2 separate regions of the Homo sapiens genome follow, and region 2 is linked to region 1. The links come from fine-mapping of genetic effects on gene expression. A gene starts in region 1. The other region holds a variant in brackets. All regions are shown on one strand. Distances are between the middles of the regions.

Region 1 (5,540 bases):
TGCAATGTAAGTATATTTAGACATGGGGGTAACAGATGAAATATTTAAAAGACTTGAATTTTCCTTTGGTGAGAAGAATTGAGAATAGAGTAGAAGGGTTGGGTACTACAGGGTTTTCTTTAACCTAGAATGTGGCAAACTGTTAGTGCTCACCAATATGTGTGTGTTTCTCTACATTTCTCAGGATCCCCGGCAGTTAAAGTGGGGGCCTTGGGACTAAATTCTGGCCAACAGAATGTGGCCAAATTGATACATGTCATTTTTAGAGTTAACCTTGGGTAATTTGCCATACTTTCTTTCTTGTCAAACAAGCTAGTCCTAGAAGGCAGCAGAACCATTAAAAATAAAAACATCTGGCCTTGAATTTAACATTTCGTCTGCCTAGAAATAGCCACAATGGATCTTTTGTGAGGAAAAAAAAAAGTGTATTAAACCACCGATATTTTGGGGTTTTCTGTTACAGAAGTAAATTCACTATGCTGGTTTTAAAACATGGACAAGAAATCTTTGCCAATCCTTTGAGAAGAGGGATCTATGTCTCCTTTCCTAAAATGGAACAGGACTTTGACACATTTGTAAGCAAAAGAAAGTGGGGGAAGTAGCACCGCGTTACTTTTTGAGGCAAGGTCAGAAAAGGTCAGGCAATTTTTGCCTTGTTCATTGCAACACTCCCTTTGGAGCTCTGAGTTTAAGCTAAGAAGTCTGACTACCTTGCTGCCATACTGTGAGGAAACCCCGGCCATATAGTTACAGAAGCTCTGCTAGCATGCCCACTCTAGTCTTTCTAATTGAGTTACCAAAGAAAAGCTGATGACTATGCCCTATTGACAACACCACCTGTGAACATAATAAAATGGTTGTTTTAAGCCACCATATTTTGGAGTAATTTATTACATACGATAGCAACCCAATGCTCAATCTAACAAGTAGTATTATTTGCTTTTTAATCTGTGCAATTTAACTACTTTGATAAAATTTAGAGTTAAACTAAAAAGGAAAATGGTTGTGAATTCTTCTTGGCTTATAGACTTTGCTATTCTACTTTCCCTACCCAGAAAATTCACCTTTCTCCCTAAATCACTGGCTTTCAAACTTTTTAAGGTTTGAAATACAGTAAGAAATACATTTTACAAACAAGCCCTAGTGCACACATACACGCATATATACAATTAAAAGCTCCATAAAGCAGTACTTTACTAACTAACACTAAATTTACTTACATGCGCTGATATTTCCAATCTATATTGTTTCTTTTTTTTAAGTTTAAAGAGATTTCCTTGCTTACAAATGGGTCAAGACCTCCACTAATGGGTCCCACACAATCCCCTTTCCAGTTGAAAAACACTGTCCTAAACCTAAATCATTCTTCAAGGCCTTACCCAAGTCCGAAAAAGAAGCCTTTATTGACCACTCCATTCTCAGCTTTCTTGAAATTCCTGTAATTTATTAAATTCCATTTTTTATCTCAGTAGTAAGAATATTGCATTTTCTGTACTTGAATTTAACATGCTTTACTTGATATCGTGAGCACTTCTAGGGCATTGTAATGTCCTTTATCTACCACTTGATAAATTCAGAGTAGTCAATAAAACATTGCTCAACATTTGACCATTGTGTTTTAAAATCTTAGTTGTTAGAGTGCACTTCCGTTTGCGCATTGTTTGGGGAGAGGCACGGACAAATGTTCTAATAACTTATCCACATATTATACTTCAAAGTGGAAAAACACAAAGTACTCTTAACTCTATATGCGTGTTTTTATGCAAACTAAATCATTAAGATACAAATGATTTTTCTAATAGCTTTCATTACCACACAGCACACGAAATAATGATATTGATATAGCCACGAAAGACTAATGTAACCAAGTTCTCACAATCAAAATATCTTTGAGGTGGGCAAAATGCAAACTTTTCTCTGGGATCAACATTTCTTCACAACTCACTGCAACTACGCCTTGACAGTATGTTTCGAGAACCGCTTCCCAATTTTGTTGTCCCAGCAAGAATCGGGAGGAAACTGGGTGAAAGGCTGCGAGGCTTGAGGCGGGTCCCGGACGAACGCGGCCCTGCCCCTCGCCGGAGCCTCTCGGGAGAAGTGCGACACCGCCGCTGATTGAGAGGCTGAGGCGGAACTTCCCGTCTAACCCCCCCCCCGCTGTCGTCCCAGCCTGTTGCTTAAGCCGCGCGGTGTGCGGTGTGCGCGGCCCCTGCCTTAGCAACGACGCTAGTAACTGCCTGGCTCCTCCCTCTGGTGTCTCCCGGAAAGCGCTCCGTCTGGTCCGTGCGCGATCACGGCCCGGCGCGTGGCTCGGGCTCGGGCGGAGCTGGAGACGTGTGGAGCTGTTCGAGGACTCGCGGGTGTGCAGGTCTGAGTACCACTCCGATCCCTGGTGGAGGTCCCCGCGCCTCTCTGGAGACCAGTGGTCTGGCCCCAGAGGTGCGGCCGCGGGAAGTGGACATTCTTTGTCAGGACCCTAGCGGAGGTCGCGCTGGGTGTCGCCTGTGAGGGGGATCCTCGGTTTCTGCGCGGTCTCTTGCTTTTTTTAGGATCTTGCGGGCCCTTTGGGAAAAAGGTTTCCAAATTTTTCCTCAAAAAAAAAATTATTTTTCCTACCAATGATTTTCGGTGCATTCCGCCCCAACGAAAAGTATGTCCTGGCAAAGTCAGTTCCCTAGGAACCCCATACTTTATTTTATTTTATTTTTAGTATTTGGAGTGGTTTGTGGGGGTTTGGTTATCACGGAAGGGGAAGCGTAGTACAGACGTAGAATTAGTGATGCCATGCAGTGTATTTAAAATATTGAGGTTGTGGTTACATAATAAGCAAAAGAGCCTGTTTCTTACGTCTAAATTATTTATTGGGAATGTAGGACAAATAAGGAAGTATATTAACATTTTCAGTCGCCAGGCCCACAAAGTTGGATGGTAAAATCAATACTGTAGATCGCAGCATGTAAGGACTAACCCAGTGCACCATGAAAACGAAGGCAAGACAGTTTGTTACCATATGGCGGGTGGTGTGGGAGAGGCCATTGATCCTATATGAAAAAGGGTACTACTACCTTGGATTATGAAAAATGAATGTTGGACCTGTAGGTCCTATGTGACCAAGTTCTTAAAAACACTCTAAAGAAAATTGGAAGTGGTTTTTTTCTAATACTGAATTGGTCCACAATATAGGACAGGGGAGTCTGTATAGTGTTCCATTGGGAGGTGAGTCAGCTTACAATAATGGAAGAGGTAGAAGCTTTTTGTTATTATTTTGGAGAAAAAAAAATTGCCAGCCTGCCACTTGTGCTAGGCTGCAGACGGCCCATAAAGGTAGTTTGTCAGATACTTCAGTAGTGAGATGCTTACTGGATGTGTTTTGCAGAATGGTTTTGATTTAGTTAACAAGTGTTTGTTGAGTTCCTGCTGTTGCATAAGAATCAGGAATAGGTGAGATCAGGGAAGGAATCTGCTCTTACAGAGTTGAATGCTGGAGGGGATAGATTCACTAAAGTACCTCCACAATAAATGCATTTTTCCATGTCAAATATGTGGAACTAATAATAAGTACTCAAAGAGGTTTAAGACATTGCTGTGGCCCATCTATGAGTTAATAAGGAACTGAATTAGAATCCTGACTTTGAGAGTGAAGATAGAGGATTATATACAAGGTAGATGCAACTTGGTGAGTATAATTAATTTGGGGTGGAAATTGGGTAGAAGGAGGAATAAAAAATTAATGTATTTTTAGCCTTAAGTTCCAGAATGATGGACGCACCATCAAGGTGTTAAAATTGTTAGTTCCTTAGGAACAGTCTTTATGTTTTCTAAGTCTTTTTAGCCCCCATGACTCAAATTGTACTTCCTTGCACATATTTGATGTTAACAAGTATGTTTTAAAAATTTTAAATAACCCCATTTGCAATAAAATCATTTGCAATGATTTTCTCACAGTCGAGGCAGGCTGTTGGCTCGGTTAGGACAGATGCCCTGATCATGTAGTTTCAGAGACCACTGGAGGGAGCTGCCCATGATTTACAATTGCTGGCCTCTTCTACGTGGCCACCTCAGCCATAAGTGAGAGTATATAGGTGAACTAAGAGGTGGAGCCATAAACATTTCTCTTTTACTGTCTTACAGGTATTTGTGGTGGTTGATTTTTCTAGAGGAAGGTTATTTATATAAAGCTTCACTAATATCCATTTAGTTATGTGGATAGCAGGTCCATGAACTGCAAAGTGATATTTCTGAGGTATCTCTAGGAGGAATGCACTTTCAGTGCCCTAGGATAACTCCAAAAACTCACCAGTAGTTTTCTGTTAAATGTCAGGCAACCACAGTAACTTTCATGACATCCACAGGAACTACATTTTTCAGTCCCACTATGCCTGGGCCTTTGAGTGGTACATGCATTCCCACTAAATAGCTACTCCATTACCCAGGGAAATGAAGTCAGGTTGAGCTACTCCAATCAAATTTCATTTTTTAGGATGAATCCCATCATCTGAATAACTCAGGACTATTAAAGCCTCAAAATGTTTCTCTGTAAGAACCTCAGGCAACACCAGGACAAACCCAAAGAGAGTTTAGGTGAAACTTAGCTTCGTATGTGCAGCAAAGAGACGCCAACAGAGCATTTGCAACTCTCATTTCTGGGGACTATTAGGATCTCTTCCCAAGCTTTTTTTTTTTCTCTGTTTTAGAGATGGGATCTCACTTTGTTGTCCAGACTGTTCTCAAACTCTTGTGCTCAAGTAATCCTCCCACCTTAACCTCCCAAATGCTAGTATTATAGGCATGAGCCACCATGCGTGGCCCTTCCCAAGCTTGGAACTTCCTTACCTGGGTCGTAGATGGACTCTAGGAGATCTCCAAACCTCCTGAAATTGTGTGCAAAATATTGTGTCTGTATATGCATTTTCTAGGGATGCGGTTTAATATTTTCATGTGATTCCTAAAAGAATCTGAGGCTCAAGAAAAGAGGGCATCTTAATATCCTGCACTTTCAGTCATTGAGGGCATGATCACAAAGATCAAAGCCATTTTTAGGCAGGTGAGTTGGAGTGGCAGTCAGAAGTAGGTAAGATTTTCTATTTGTGAGGCAGGAACAAGGGATTGGACCATTGTTCTTAAATACTGCTTTCTTACCCAAAATGCAAATCTGTGCGTAATCAGTACACAGCAAAAATATTTACTGTATTTTGTTTTTCCCCTTGGGTACATTTGGCAAGTGCCTTTTTCTACTATAACCGGCGTTTTTGTATCTCTTTATTTGTATCTCAAACTCACTGGGACTTACAATCTTAAAAAAAAAAAGAAAAAGAAAAATTCATTTGATGAGTAATTAAATTAGTGCCACTAACTTCTTCTCAGCAAATTATGTTGTATTTTATGTTTCTCTGGACTTTTTGTTCACTTTCTGTTTGGGAGACCACAAAATGTTTCCTGCTGGAGTCACAGCATTTCTCTTGTCCCTGTTTCTACTTAAAGTGCCTGGAGCTTCGTAGTTAAACCACAATGCCAGAAGGCTTTATAATAAGAGAATTATT
Region 2 (5,000 bases), 110 kb before region 1:
TGTTCACCAAGACAGACCACATTCTGAACCATAAAACAAGTCTCAACACGTTGCAAAAGATCATACAGAGTATGCCCTCAGACCACAGTAGTTTTTTTTTAATTAGACATCAGTAATTTTAAGATATCTAGAAAGGTCCCAAACATTTGGAAATTAAACAATACTTTTCTAAATAACCCTACTTTGACCTACTAATGGGTCAAAGTAGGAATTACAGTAAATGTTAGAAAATTTTTAATTAAGTGATAAAATACAACATATCTAAATACAACACACTTAAAGCAGTGCTTAGGGAAATTTAATCTTTAATTGCTTATGTGAAAAAAGAAGAAAGAGAATGATTTAAAGAACAAGCAAAATATAAATAATTGGTAGGTAAAGGATATATGGGAGTTGTTAATGCTATTCTTACCACTTTTCTGTTACTTAAAAAGAAAATGGAAAGTTCACAAAATACTCTCAATTTAGTTATTCATATGTGAGGGTGAGAAGTCAAAACAGATAAACAAAATTGGCTCAAGATAGTAGACTATTACTCTTTCTATCAGAAATCCCTAGAAATAGCCCCCCACCCCCCATAACAATATATACGAAGTTTTGGTAAAACACTGAGGATGACAGCAAACAAGAAAATTTCCTGTAACTAATAAAAGATAGAAATCATATTGGATGATATATACTGCGATAAGAATATAGAAAACCACAGTTAAAATAGTGATGCTCTAAATTCAAAATTCTCAGATCTGAAGAAGAATAATTAACTAATTAAATAATTCTAGAATCAGATTAACTAAAGAATAACTTCCCAAAGAGTAGGCTGGGTAGGTTAATTCCTCCTCTTCCTTGGCCTATATCAAGGTATAGGTTAGAAAGGTATTTCCCTCTGCATTAGTGGTTTGTAACATTGCCTGCACATGAAATCATCTGAGGCACTGAGGAACTTTAAACATTACTAAGCCTAGATTCTGATTTAACCAGTCAGACACGAGACCTGAGCATTAGACTTATGTTTGGTATTAAAGAAATAGCATAAACAGGAGAGAAATAAACTCGCCTTACAAAGCTTATTAATGTAGAGTAACTGAGGACTTTGGTCCTGGCACAAGAATTTGGACGTGGCTCAAAGGAACAGAAAAGAATATTAAAATGTAAATGAATTGGTATTTCAAGTAGGCTCTAAGTGGACTATTTAATAAACGGATCATTTGGAAAAAAAAAACCCATCATATTGGAATACAACTATGCTGTTTATAACAAAGAGTTAAATTTATATGGAAATTTAAAAATACTAGAAAAATACAGGTAGGTATTTTTATAATCTTAGTTAAGTCTTCACAAACACACCACAAAACTGAAACCCTAAAGAAAACATAATTTAAATGAACAAAATAAAAAATGTAAATTTATCTATAGAGACAATACATATTAACCAGTTAGCAATACAAGTAAAAGTGAGAATATATGTAGTATACATAAAGACAAAAAGGATAAACATTTTAAAAAATCATTATTTTGTAACAGGCAAATGGAAAAAGGACTTAAGTGTGTACCACTATAACATCAATCTATAAATCAAATGTTATTTTAAGGCCCTCACCAAAAACATAAATCATTAGAAAATTCTGCCTAATAAATAAATTAATTGATTTTTGCTACCTATTCCATTTGGCAGTATACAGAAACTTTACTTACTAGTTGATATATGTTCTTGACTGTCTGCAATTCTTTCCTTTACTGATTTTGCAGGTGCTTTTTTGCTACCATGAATGGTGGTTGTGGAGAGTTCTTTCAGTTTCCAGTGGATCCAAAAGCCTTTTTGAGGTTTTAAACCTGTTAATATAAAATACATATTTAGCCAAATAAATTTGGATTTTGAAAATACCTTTTAATTTGTCAAAGCATTTTTATGATAATTATACATTTCATCCTCACAACAAAAAAGTTCCTTTTTTGTTCCTTTTAAGCTGCGTAGGATTAGATAAGTCATCTAACCACTCTAAACATCTGTATCCTCAGCAATAAAAATGAGAATAACATAAATTATTTTGAAATATATGTTACAGTGTTGGTAAA[T/C]GGGAAAGTATGACACAAATATGAACTAATATTATTATTAATATTATATGTTAACAATAATTATGACTATAACATGCTCATAAATGTAGCCAATATTTTCTCAGCGGTGAGTGTTCAATGAGGGTTATTCACTAGACTGAGCCATCAAATTGTAATTTTCTAAATGTTTTTAGATACAGTTATCACTTATTTAGCAGACTTCAGTTTGATTCACTTGAGTGCTTCTAGATAGATTGCCTATGTTTTAAAATATTGTGCATTAATAGAAAAATTGAAGTATAGTAAGGCCAACAGATCAGCAGATTGCGTTTATAAAGATGGTTTATTACTCACAGTTCCCAAGAGTAGGGGGATGTCATGCCACAGGGGGCCACATGGGCAAGCCCTGGGGCCAGTCAGGAGGCAGAGAAAGAGGGGAGAACTGTGGGGGAGAGTCTTTATTGTGCTTTCCTTAGGAAGGAAGAGGCAAGGCAAGAAGGCCTATGATTGACTAGTTTAAATAATTTCAGTAGGCTTTAGTGCATAGGAGCTACCCCTATCTGGTACCTAGTCCTGGGATGATTTGGGCAGGTGGATAGTGACCCAGAGTGTAACAGCCAAATAAAGGAAATGGTTGTGTGTGACCTCTGAATTGGTTGGTTTGTTTAAAAATCAAAAAGCATTTAAAAAACATGCTCATGGGCAAGTTGCCTCTAGGAATTAACTAACCCTAGGAAGTGCAGTCCTTCTAGGGTCATCAAGGTCCCAGATGTCAAAGTATCAGAATATAGAAAATAAAATACATGGTTAATACTGTCCAGTATTGCATAAACCCTACTTGGTCCTGATATATAAAGAGAGAGAGGGATTACTATGTACCAAACTATGTGCTTGACACAAGGGGCGCAAAAGTCATTTCAATCTAGTCCCTGTCTGCCATCAAGGCAGACGTGAAATTATTTAACATGGTGCCTGATCCCTAGTAAGCACTTAATATAAGTTACTTTCACTGTTACTTTTTTTTTTTTTTTTTGCAAATTAGCCACTGGTTGATATCTGACTACATTCCAACATTATTTACAAGTTTTAATTCAAATTGGTCACAAAACATGAATTGTTCCAAAGAATGACATTAATATAGAGCCACAACACTCGAAATTTATCTTTTCACATTGCCAGTTTTAAAAAACTAAACTCTAGTAGGATCTATTCAAGTATTTCCTAGGAAATTGTTATCCTACAGGATTTAGAAACAAATGGCCCATAAAATAAAGGAGCTAAAAACCTAAAATGTCTTTGCAATTATTTGGTAACTTACATATATTCTAATTTTCATTTTTCATTTTATAAAATTTATACAGACATACAATTTAAAGAGTGAAATTATATGTGAAACTATTTGTTTAATTTCCAAAGTCCCATAGTTCCTCACACATCCCCAAGACCATATCTTGCTTCCCAGAAACAACTATCTTTATCTGGGACCCATAACCATAGCACACACAAAAAAGGGCTATATTGTTACATTTTGATGTATTAATTTTAGGCATTCTATTGACGTCCAACTAGGGAAGATAAAGATTTAACGATCTTTCACCATCCTATCCCATTATCACCACATACAAGCTAACTTTCTATTCTTTACATAATATCAACTGTTATAATTTTCATTGTGTGAATATCAGCATTTACATTATTGTAACTATGTAAAATCTTGTTGACAGCTGAACCAGTTTTCTCTTTTTGAATATAGAGAATAATGTGGACAATTGAGACTTTAAAAATGAATCTGCTATACTTATTTTCTTAAGAAAATTTTTTTATCTGAAGTTAATAATTGTTGGATGTTTTTGTTTTCTTATGTTCTATGTACTTATAATTAACTTAGCTCCAAACTGCTCCCCCCACTATTGTCTAAATTGCCTTTGAATACATTCAGATGCATTAGAGATGCTTTCAGTTTAATATTCTTGGAGACATCTCTCCCAAAGCCTGCCAATGTGCTCGAATCTGAACAAATTTTTTCATTAGGCCTGTGCAGTTATCATTTAGGGAGCTCCCTTCACCAGTATTTTGGAGATTCAATTTACATGTCTCATGTGTTAAAGCCTCCATTTCTTGACTCTCATCTTAACCTCTTCATTAATTTACGCCTTATTTTGGTGGTTTTTTTTCTCCAATAACTTGATGAGAAAAGATGTATATAAGTTAACAATGCCTTCAGTTCATCTTTACACTTACTTGACAAATTGGTTGGGTCTAGGGTCCTAGGTTATAAATAATTTTCCCTTAGAATTTGTAAGACATTGTTCCATTCTCTTCCATCTTTCAAAGCTGCTGTTAAGAGGGATGATACAATTCTGTTTCTTAATCTTTCTGTTCTCTGGAAGTTTTTTTTTTTTAGCATTTTCTTTTTGTTCTCTGGGTTCTGAGGACTCACAATTTACTGTGGCATACAGCAATTTTTATCCATTGTCCTAAGCACTAGATAACCTCTTTCAAACTAGAAACTCAAGTTTTTCAAGCATGGAAAACTTTTTGAAGTAATTCTTTGATTATTTCTTTGCTTTCTCTCTGTTTTCTCTTTTTGAATATAATATAGAGAATTGAGATGTCAAAAACAAAAAGGCTTCTGAAGGGTTAGTTTCTTCCCATTTGAGATGGATGCTTAAACAGATCACTGTGGTCTTCAGTCTTTATTCTTTTTTGAAAATACACATTAAAGGCCATAAATTACCTTCCAAGAACCTTAGCTATCATCTTATATATTTTGAGACATAGTATTTATTCTTGTCAACTTGTTCAAAACTAGTTTCCATTTCTCTAATTTCCATTATGATATCTTCTTTGAAGATTGAGTTAGTAGGCACATATTTCTTATTTTATTTTTTCATTAACTTTTAAGTTCCAGGGAACATGTGTGGATGTGCAGGTTTGTTATATAGATA

What was found. PIP is the estimated chance that this variant, and not a neighbour inherited with it, causes the effect. A credible set is the group of variants that fine-mapping cannot tell apart.
Region 2: its variant is the best candidate, but not a certain one, in a credible set for the expression of DTWD1 in whole blood (INTERVAL, PIP 0.57).

What each region holds. Positions count from the first base shown.
Region 1 is chr15:49,618,755-49,624,294 of GRCh38, forward strand. DTWD1 (DTW motif tRNA-uridine aminocarboxypropyltransferase 1) reads left to right here and starts at 2,294. Exons shown (of 5, transcript NM_001144955.2): 1 at 2,294-2,368. FAM227B (family with sequence similarity 227 member B) reads right to left here and starts at 2,064. Exons shown (of 16, transcript NM_152647.3): 1 at 1,946-2,064. RefSeq lists an enhancer at 2,406-2,525.
Region 2 is chr15:49,506,519-49,511,518 of GRCh38, forward strand. It overlaps FAM227B (family with sequence similarity 227 member B), which reads right to left. Exons shown (of 16, transcript NM_152647.3): 11 at 1,693-1,830. Among named protein-coding and RNA genes, the nearest start is that of FGF7, 86 kb to the left of the region's middle. The variant T/C (reference allele first, on the strand shown) is at 2,074.